Regions from separate parts of the Homo sapiens genome. Here regions 1 and 2 are each linked to region 3. Evidence: fine-mapped expression QTL. A gene starts in region 3. Each other region holds a variant in brackets. All regions are shown on one strand. Distances are from middle to middle.

The links. PIP is the estimated chance that this variant, and not a neighbour inherited with it, causes the effect. A credible set is the group of variants that fine-mapping cannot tell apart.
Region 1: its variant is the best candidate, but not a certain one, in a credible set for the expression of SLTM in blood mononuclear cells (TOPMed, PIP 0.87).
Region 2: its variant is the best candidate, but not a certain one, in a credible set for the expression of SLTM in whole blood (TOPMed, PIP 0.89).

The regions. Positions count from the first base shown.
Region 1 is chr15:58,883,264-58,886,022 of GRCh38, forward strand. SLTM (SAFB like transcription modulator) reads right to left here. Exons shown (of 21, transcript NM_024755.4): 20 at 363-523. Among named protein-coding and RNA genes, the nearest start is that of SLTM, 49 kb to the right of the region's middle. The variant G/A (reference allele first, on the strand shown) is at 1,619.
Region 2 is chr15:59,522,789-59,525,547 of GRCh38, forward strand. FAM81A (family with sequence similarity 81 member A) reads left to right here. Exons shown (of 9, transcript NM_152450.3): 9 at 1-767. It also overlaps the pseudogene RPL21P114. Among named protein-coding and RNA genes, the nearest start is that of FAM81A, 86 kb to the left of the region's middle. The variant A/C (reference allele first, on the strand shown) is at 1,701.
Region 3 is chr15:58,932,300-58,935,058 of GRCh38, forward strand. SLTM (SAFB like transcription modulator) reads right to left here and starts at 1,380. Exons shown (of 21, transcript NM_024755.4): 1 at 1,105-1,380; 2 at 57-144. The coding sequence starts at 1,266. RefSeq lists silencers at 737-996, 1,367-1,546 and enhancers at 1,047-1,286, 1,577-1,716, 1,737-1,826.

The sequences.
Region 1 (2,759 bases), 49 kb before region 3:
AAGACCTCGCCACTGCAGTCCAGCATGGGCGACAGAGTGAGACTCCATCTCAAAAAACAAAAAACAAAACAAAACAAAAGAATTCATTGTTTACTGGATCCTGCCATACGTACATACCCATATCTATATCAACTTGCCAGAACGTCACTGAATTCATTTAAAAGGAAGAATACAAACTAACACATTAATATCAGCTGTTCTGCAAACACTCTTTTGGAGACTACGGGTTGATACAGGGAAATGTTCAGGCAGATCTAGGGTTTTCAGTAGTTGCAATTCAGTCTCTCAGAAACTATAATGACTTTTATGGAAAGGATAAAGTGTTGGTTGTGTGCTGGCAGAAAAACTGGTTAGTTATTTACCTTGAATGTTGGGTTATCATGCCTGCTCCTGCCCGGCCGTCACCCATTCGCCTCGTATCATGATAGCTAGGCCCTTGAGAGGGTGGACCATGCCACTCTTTCCTTGGTCCGCTTGTGTCCCGTCCATGGCGTTCAACCACATGTCGCTCCTCAGGATAGTGCTAAAAGAATAGCATATGAAAAGTCACTTGGCCGGGCGCAGTGGCTCATACCTATAATCTCAGCACTTTGGGAGGCTGAGGCAGGCGGATCACCTGAGGTCAGGAGTTCGAGACCAGCCTGGCTAACATGGTGCAACCCCGTTTCTACTAAAAATACAAAAAATTAGTCAGGCATGGTACCCCACACCTATAATCCCAGCTACTCAGGAGGCTGGGGCAGGAGAATCACTTGAACCCGGGAGGCAGAGGTTGCAGTGAGCTGAGATTGCGCCATTGCACTCCAGCTTGGGCAACAAGAGTGAAACCCCATCTCAAAAAAAAAAAAAAGGAGAAGTCACAATACCCTCAGTCTTGGTCTCATACCAACTTATATTGGTGTGCTTTTAATGTCAGAAGCAAATTAATAAGATGTCTGAGAAGATAAAAGGATGAGTAGTGCAGCAGCATATGAAAAGAGTTTATATCTATTTTGTAGTGAGAAGCTACTCAGGTCTCAGGGAAGGGTATGGAGGAAATGATTTAATACTTTTGTTGTTGTTGTTTTGTTTTTTGAGACAGAGTCTCGCTCTGTTGCCAGGCTGGAATGCAGTGGCGCGATCTCGGCTCACTGCAACCTCCGCCCCCCGGATTCAAGCGATTCTCCTGCCTCGGCCTCCCAAGTAGCTGGGACTACAGGTATGCACCAGCACGCCCAGCTAATTTTTGTATTTTTAGTGGAGACGGGGTTTCACCATGTTGGCCAGGATGGTCTTGATCTCTTGACTTCATGATCCGCCCGCCTAGGCCTCCCAAAGTGCTGGGATTACAGGTGTGAGCCACCACACCTGGCCAATTCCTTTTTTTAAAAAATAATTTTTTTTTTTGGAGACATGATCACACTGTTGCCCAGGTTGGAGTACAGTGTTGCTACCGTAACTCACTGCAACTTTGAACTCCTGGGGCTCAAGCAATTCTCCTGCTTCAGCCTCCTGCCTAGCTGGGACTACAGGGTGCACACCACCATGCCCATCTTTAATTTTAATTTTCCTATGGAGATGGGGGTCTCACTATATTGTCCAAGCTCGTCTCGAACCCTTGGCCTCAAGTAATCCTCCC[G/A]CCTTGGCCTCCAAAAGTGCTAGGTTTACAGCCACGAGCCACCAGGCCTGGCCATTAATTTGTATTTCTGTATTTTCTAGCACCCAAGGGCTTTTTGACCCTTGATTATTTCAAATACTTGGATCTTATATTGACTGTAAGAAGGCACAGCCAGAGATCAAAACCTTAAGACAAGGCACGGCAGGGCCTATGATCAGCCTATCAGGACAACATGCAGACAGCACAGCAAACAGGAGTTGTGAACTTATTTTACATTGTACTACTTAGTGCTATGGCACTTACAAGGTGCTACATCCATAACTATGGAAAACAGAGTAGCAAACACAAAGAAACAGAAACTGTAGAACTAGAGATCTATGGAAAGAGAAAGCAAGCATTGTGATACTTAGCTTACAGGAAAGAAAGCAGAAGGTACCCACAGAGAGGCTTAGATATAATACTGGCAGAACAATTTACAGACTAACATTATGAAAAAGAAAATTTTCAAGGGAGGATACAAGATCTCCTCCTCAGGACACATTTTCTAAAAGGACCTCTGAATGCGGAGGGCTAGTCTTTGATACTTAAATTTTACTATAAACAAGGCAGACTTATTTGGATTATAGACTCAGTCTTAAAAATTCTTTTTAGGAGGTGGGCGTCATGGTTCATGCTTGTAATTCCAGCACTTTGGGAGACAGAGGTGGATGGTCGGAAGTTTGAAACCAGCCTGACCAACATGGTGAAACCCCGCCTCTACTAAAAATACAAAAATTAGCCAGGCGTGGTGGCGCACATCTGTAGTCCCAGCTAATCGGGAGGCTGAGGAAGGAAAATCGCTTGAACCTGGGAGGCGGAGGTTGCCGTGAGCCGAGATCGCACCACGGCATGTCAGCCTGTTTGACAGAGTAAGACTCCATCTCAAAAAACAAACAAACAAAACAAAACAAAAAAAACAACAACACACACACACACACTGTATTAAAATACAAAACAAACACCAGCATATAATGGAGACACACACACTGCACAATTCTTTTTGGTATATAATTTATGAAAGTATGTCCTAACTGTGCTACTATCAACCCACACGCCAGTATTTCATCAGTAGAAGAATACTTTTAAATGAGGCAAAAGGTTTTTGTTCATTTCGGTCTCTAAA
Region 2 (2,759 bases), 590 kb after region 3:
GAAGTGTCTAACTGGCTATTACTGTTTACCCATATAAAATATGCTGCTAAAGTACATATTTTGCTGTCAATGGCTTGACAATTTTTTTTTTCAAATTTGGACATGAGAGGTTATATAGGGACTATATTATCCAACACATATTTTCTTATTTTGCCACAAATTTCCACTTAACAAATAAAAAAAGGCGAATGCTGTTTTGCAATCAGAAAGTGAATTTCTTTTGTGGTAGCGTACACGTGGTTCATGTGGTTCTCCACGTTTAAGCACAAACCACAGCACAGGAAGCCACACCCCCTCCAGCATCTCTGTCTTGTGGGGTCTTTGAGGAGAAGGAATCAGAACATCGACACCTGGGAAGAGGGAGGCGGGGAACACCAGCTGGACTCTGGCCAAGGAGTGATGTAAGCAGGTGACACTTGGCTGTCAGCTGAGCTTCTCAGGTGCTTCTGACATTGCCAGCCCCTTGAGATGAGCCACCGCAGGTGTGCTCACCTTGGCTACATGTTGAAATCATCCAGAGGAGTTGGGAAATCTACTGATGCCCCGCTGTGCCTCCCAGACCGATTAAGTCAGAACCTCTGGGAGGTGGGTCGCAGGCATCAGTGCGTGCCCGAGGCCTCCGCGTGTTTGGGTGTGCAGCCGAGGTGGTGAGCTGTCGAGCCACAGTGCAGTTCTCTTCTCACCAAAGCTCAAATGAGAATCAGCTTCCATGTTCTTTCCTTTACCAGAAATTTGCAATAAAAAGAAAAATAAAATTTTCACATAAATGTGGTGTATGATTTTTAAATTGAAAAGTCTTTCAGTGTTGAGCTGAAGACTTAATTAGGTAAAATGCCATAGGAAATATTTCTGTTTGCTCTCTGTGGAAACGCTTTGATGGTTGAAATAAAGTGCTCAAGTCCTGGCAGCTCCTCTGACGACTGGAATGTCATTGGGAGCTGCTGGTCTGTGGGCTTCGGGGCTGTAGGGCCTTCTCTGCAGCCTTCTTGTCTCTTGGCAGTTCTCGGGTGTGTGCTGTGTGCCTGTGCTGTGTCCCCTGTGTATGTCAACTCTTTTCATTTTAACTAGTTGAGTTCAATACCATTTCCCCATTTTACAGATGAGAAAACAGAGTCACCTAAAGGTTAAGCAACTTGCCCCAAGTCCTATAGCTGATAAATGGGAGCCATGATTCAAGCCAGGCCGCCTACTTCCGCACTCTGGGAGCCTTACCAGCATACCACACTACCTCCGAAGACATTTTGGCTTCCCACATAAGTGACTTGCTAGGCCACTGACATCAGCCATATCTATATGAGCTTGGCCTCCTGCCATCTGACTACCCTCGCTTTTTAATGCCCCGATTCCAAATACGTAATGAGGCAATCTAATTAGCTTGTCAAACGTCTTCCCCTGGCTGTATCAATGTGGAGGCACCAGAGGTGGGGGGCAGTTGGTGCCACAGGACTTGTAGGATCACAGGCATTTCATCCCCTGCACTTGGGCTGTCCTAGGTCGTGGTCCCTGGCTGGCTCTGCACATCGGGAGATGGATTGTGTAGGGGAGTGTAGAGCAGAACAGAGAAGATGGCTCCGTTCAAGTTGTAATTATCCCACTAGGCTTTCAGGGGGAAAAAGAATCACAAAGCACTGTGACATCAGTCCCTTGCTCTGCCACACAGCCCTCCTGACAGGTTGTTTACAACACAGCAGCTTGCTTCC[A/C]CCAGTACCAGTGAGAGAGAGGGTGAACGGGAAGGAAGCTAGTCTTTTGTAACCTAATCTCAGAAGTGACAAGCCACCACTTCCACTAGTCTCTTCATGAAAAGCAAGTCCAGCACACACACAGCGGGAGGGGATCACACAAGGGGCTGAACACCTGGGGATGGGGTCACTGGGGGACATTTTACCGACTTCCTGCTCCAGCCGGAATCTGGACTCTGAGTCTCAGTCAGGTGGGCCTGCAGTGCAGTGTCTACTCTATAAAAGGATACTGCTGAGGTCCTTTAGCTCTGGATTTATAGGGACGACAAAATAACTTTTTGAGATGAACTGAACCAAAAATGGCCCAAGATGAATTGACAATTTCCAATAGACATGTGAGGGAGCTTAGAAGTGGAGCTCCCTACCCAAAAGAAATGAAAGTGGGGAATCGGGTATGTGTACATGTGGGCATGGTGGCTTACGCCTGTAATCCCAACACTTTGGGAGGCTGAGGTGGGCGGATCACCTGAGGTCAGGAGTTCAAGACCAGCCTGGCCAACATGGTGAAACCCCCATCTCTACAAAAAACACAAAAATTAGCCGGGCGTGGTGGCACATGTCTGTAATCCCAGCTACTCGGGAGGCTGAGGCAGGAGAATTGCCTGAACCTGGGAGGCAGAGGTTGCAGTGAGCCGAGATCACGCCACTGCACTCCAGCCTGGGCAGCAGAGTGAGAGTCTGTCTCAAAAAAAAAAAGAAAAGAAGTGAAAACTCTCAGGCTCCACCAAGACCTACTGAATCAGAGGCTCTGAGACGGACGCACCAAATTGCTTCAAGTCCTGCAGGTGATTGTAATGTAAAATCTGAGGCTTGCTGCACTAATAAGTAGCCACTAATTACATGGATTTTTTTTTAACAGTCAAGAGGTCCTTAATTTTTTGGCACCTATTGTGCCATAAATTCATAGGGAACAGGTTCCAGCAGCTCAGGCCCTCTTCTGTTGGTTCACTAAGTGTGCTTCTCTGCGTAGAGCAGGCTGGTGCTTCAGCGGAACCCAGGTACGTTTCTCTTTGGGTTCCT
Region 3 (2,759 bases):
GAGGCAAGTTATATAACCAAAATATATTTTAAAACATGTTCATAACTCGTAACAACCTTTGCCTTTAGTTGGTTTCTTGTTTGGAGTATCAGTTGAAACAGTTAATTCAATATTATCTGGATCGCCTCCTTCCTCTTCAATAGCCTACATTAGAAAGAGAAGTTAATATGCTACACAATCTATCTAAACTTATTTTATAAAAACGAAATGAAAAAAAATTTAGCAAACCTCAAGCCTCAAGACATTAGAATTGCCAGTCATTTCATCAACCGACTTCAAAAATGAGCAATTAAACTACACGAAAGAGTGAGAGAAACTTTCAGGGGAAAAAAATCATTAGGTATCAAAATCGCAAGGAGTTTTAAATTCTACCGTGTCAAGATAATTAAATATCACATCATACTGGCCAAAAATCCAAATATGTTCTATTGCAGAAAAGTTGCTAGCTACTAAAGTAAATAACTAAAAAGAGTTTTCCTAGTTTCTGTAATGCAAACTTACTGCTCCTCTGCTACAATTCCAACGCTCACTCAAACCAGAAAGCTAATCAGGAAAGAAAAAGTAATTATTGCGCTGATGCAAAAACTAAAAGCCTAGTGGAAAACAAAAACTCTGTCACCCACCCATCAACTCCCACTACCAATTCCCCCTCAAGATGGGGAAGAAACGGTTGGGCACAATTAAACGGTAACTTCGCAGAAGTCACCAAAGTAACCATTCCCTCTGAGGCCAAGAAATGCACACGCTCACCATGGCTAAAGGCTGGGGAGCCAGCGCCTCCCAGGTCTCCGCGATCGCCCTTGGGAGGCCGCGCCGGCCGGCCGCAACCCTCGCAGCCTGGCGGGGACGTCCCGGGGAGGCGGAGGCACGCTGGGCTGCGGTGGCCGGTCCCTCGCAGGCCCGGCCCGGCCCGGGGCGCGGGGCGGGGGCACCGCGGAAGGGTCCCCGTCCTCCACGCTCGCGGGAGCCGCCCCTGGCCTCCCTACCATGCCGTTCCGCAGGTCCCAGCGGCTGCGGGCAGCCGGAGGCTGCGGCGGAAGCGGGGCGCCGAGGCGCGGCCTAAGTTCCCCTTCCCGGTCCTTTCCGGTCCTCGCCGGGCCTCACCTGCTTGAGTCGGGAGATGAGCACGGTCTTGACTCCGGTGATGTCTAAGTTCCGCCGCTTCAGCTCGGACTTCAGATCGATGACCCGCAGATCGGTGATCTTTTTACCTTCCGCCTGACCCGAGGCGGCCGAGGCTGCCACCGCACCGGTAGCGGCAGCCATCTTAGAAGAGCAGCGCGCTGCCGAGGCAGCGAGTGGGCTGCAGGGCGGCGGCAGCAGCGCCAACTTCCACCCAGGCCTCGGCGGCCGCCGGCGCCGCGCAGCGCTGCGCACAATGAGCCGCTGGCCCCTCCCCCGGTCCGCCACCCTAGCGCAACCTGCAGCAGCAGCCGCCAGCACCCGGATGACGGCCGCGCGTGCGCGTTGGCGCAGGGACCGGCAGCGGCGCGCTCGGTCGAGCGGGCCGCGGCCACTTGGGCGGTGCGCTCCCTTGTGTGGACTGGGAGGTCGGGCACGTCCTACCGCAGCAACGTCCGCCGCGCCGCCGTTCTCTCGTCGCTTCGTTAGCCATTTTCTTGCAACGTCTTGAGTCTTGAGCAACAACGATGTGCGGGCACTGAATGACATAGTGCGCGCGTTACTCAACACAAACCGAGGGGGCGCGTGCGCGCGCTGAACCTCTCAAGGAAATACTTTATCAGTTCTGCTGAATAATCGAAAAATTGTCGCCGGTGTGCACCAACGAACTAGGTTCCCCGAGTTCCATTCAAAAGACCTCAAAGCAGTTCTAGGGCTGTTAGTCCAAAGAATAGGAAGGGCTGGCCTTTGACACATGGCTCATTGGCTGTCTCAGGAGAAAACATCATCGCCCTGCCCATGGCAGCTTAGGTTATTCTAGGGCTGCCCTTCCTCACTTGAAAAACAGGAAAACTTCTTTCTTGTTGGCCTCAGGTTTGCTATCCTCCCCGGTAGACCTGATGGCTCAACACGAAATTGTTCAATGAAAGAGAAAACTAGCTTATAAGTACTTGTTGCCGTTATCATATACTGTGTTCACTATTTTGCCCCCCAAAATTTGGGATTCCAAGAACAGTGAGCATCTTCTTATGGAGGATCGGCCTGTACAAGTGAGTACCTATTTGTAATTTTACCTTGTATTATTCATTATCAAAGTGCAAGCATTGATAAAATAAAACGATTCTATAAATTCCATAAGGTGATTATGATGCACAATTAACTATACTGTATTTCCTGGTTTTACAACTTAAATTCCTGAGATCTGACTCACTTTAGGTTACTTTTTCTGATTGGCTCAAAAAAAAGGAAGACTGGACATTATAAAAGAATACCTGACATTAGGGTAGTTCTTTACAGTTTATAAGGCACTTTGACGTACAGTAACCCCCTTAATCCTTCCCAAGTCTGTCAAGTAAATCTCCGTGAGGCTTAGAGAGATTAAATGACTTGCCCATGTTCACACAGCTGGTATGTGGCCGAGCTGTGCTCAAATCCCAGGCTCCTGATTCCAAATCCAGCTCTGTCTCTGCTACAACATTGGATTCACAATAATAGAAGTTTAGAATGCAAGACTCCTTAGAAATCTTCTGGCCCATCACTTGAGGTCAGGAGTTCAAGACCAAACTGGCCAAGATACAGGGTTTAGTAGAAACCCCGTCTCTACAAAAAATACAAAAATTAGCCGGGTGTGGTGGTGA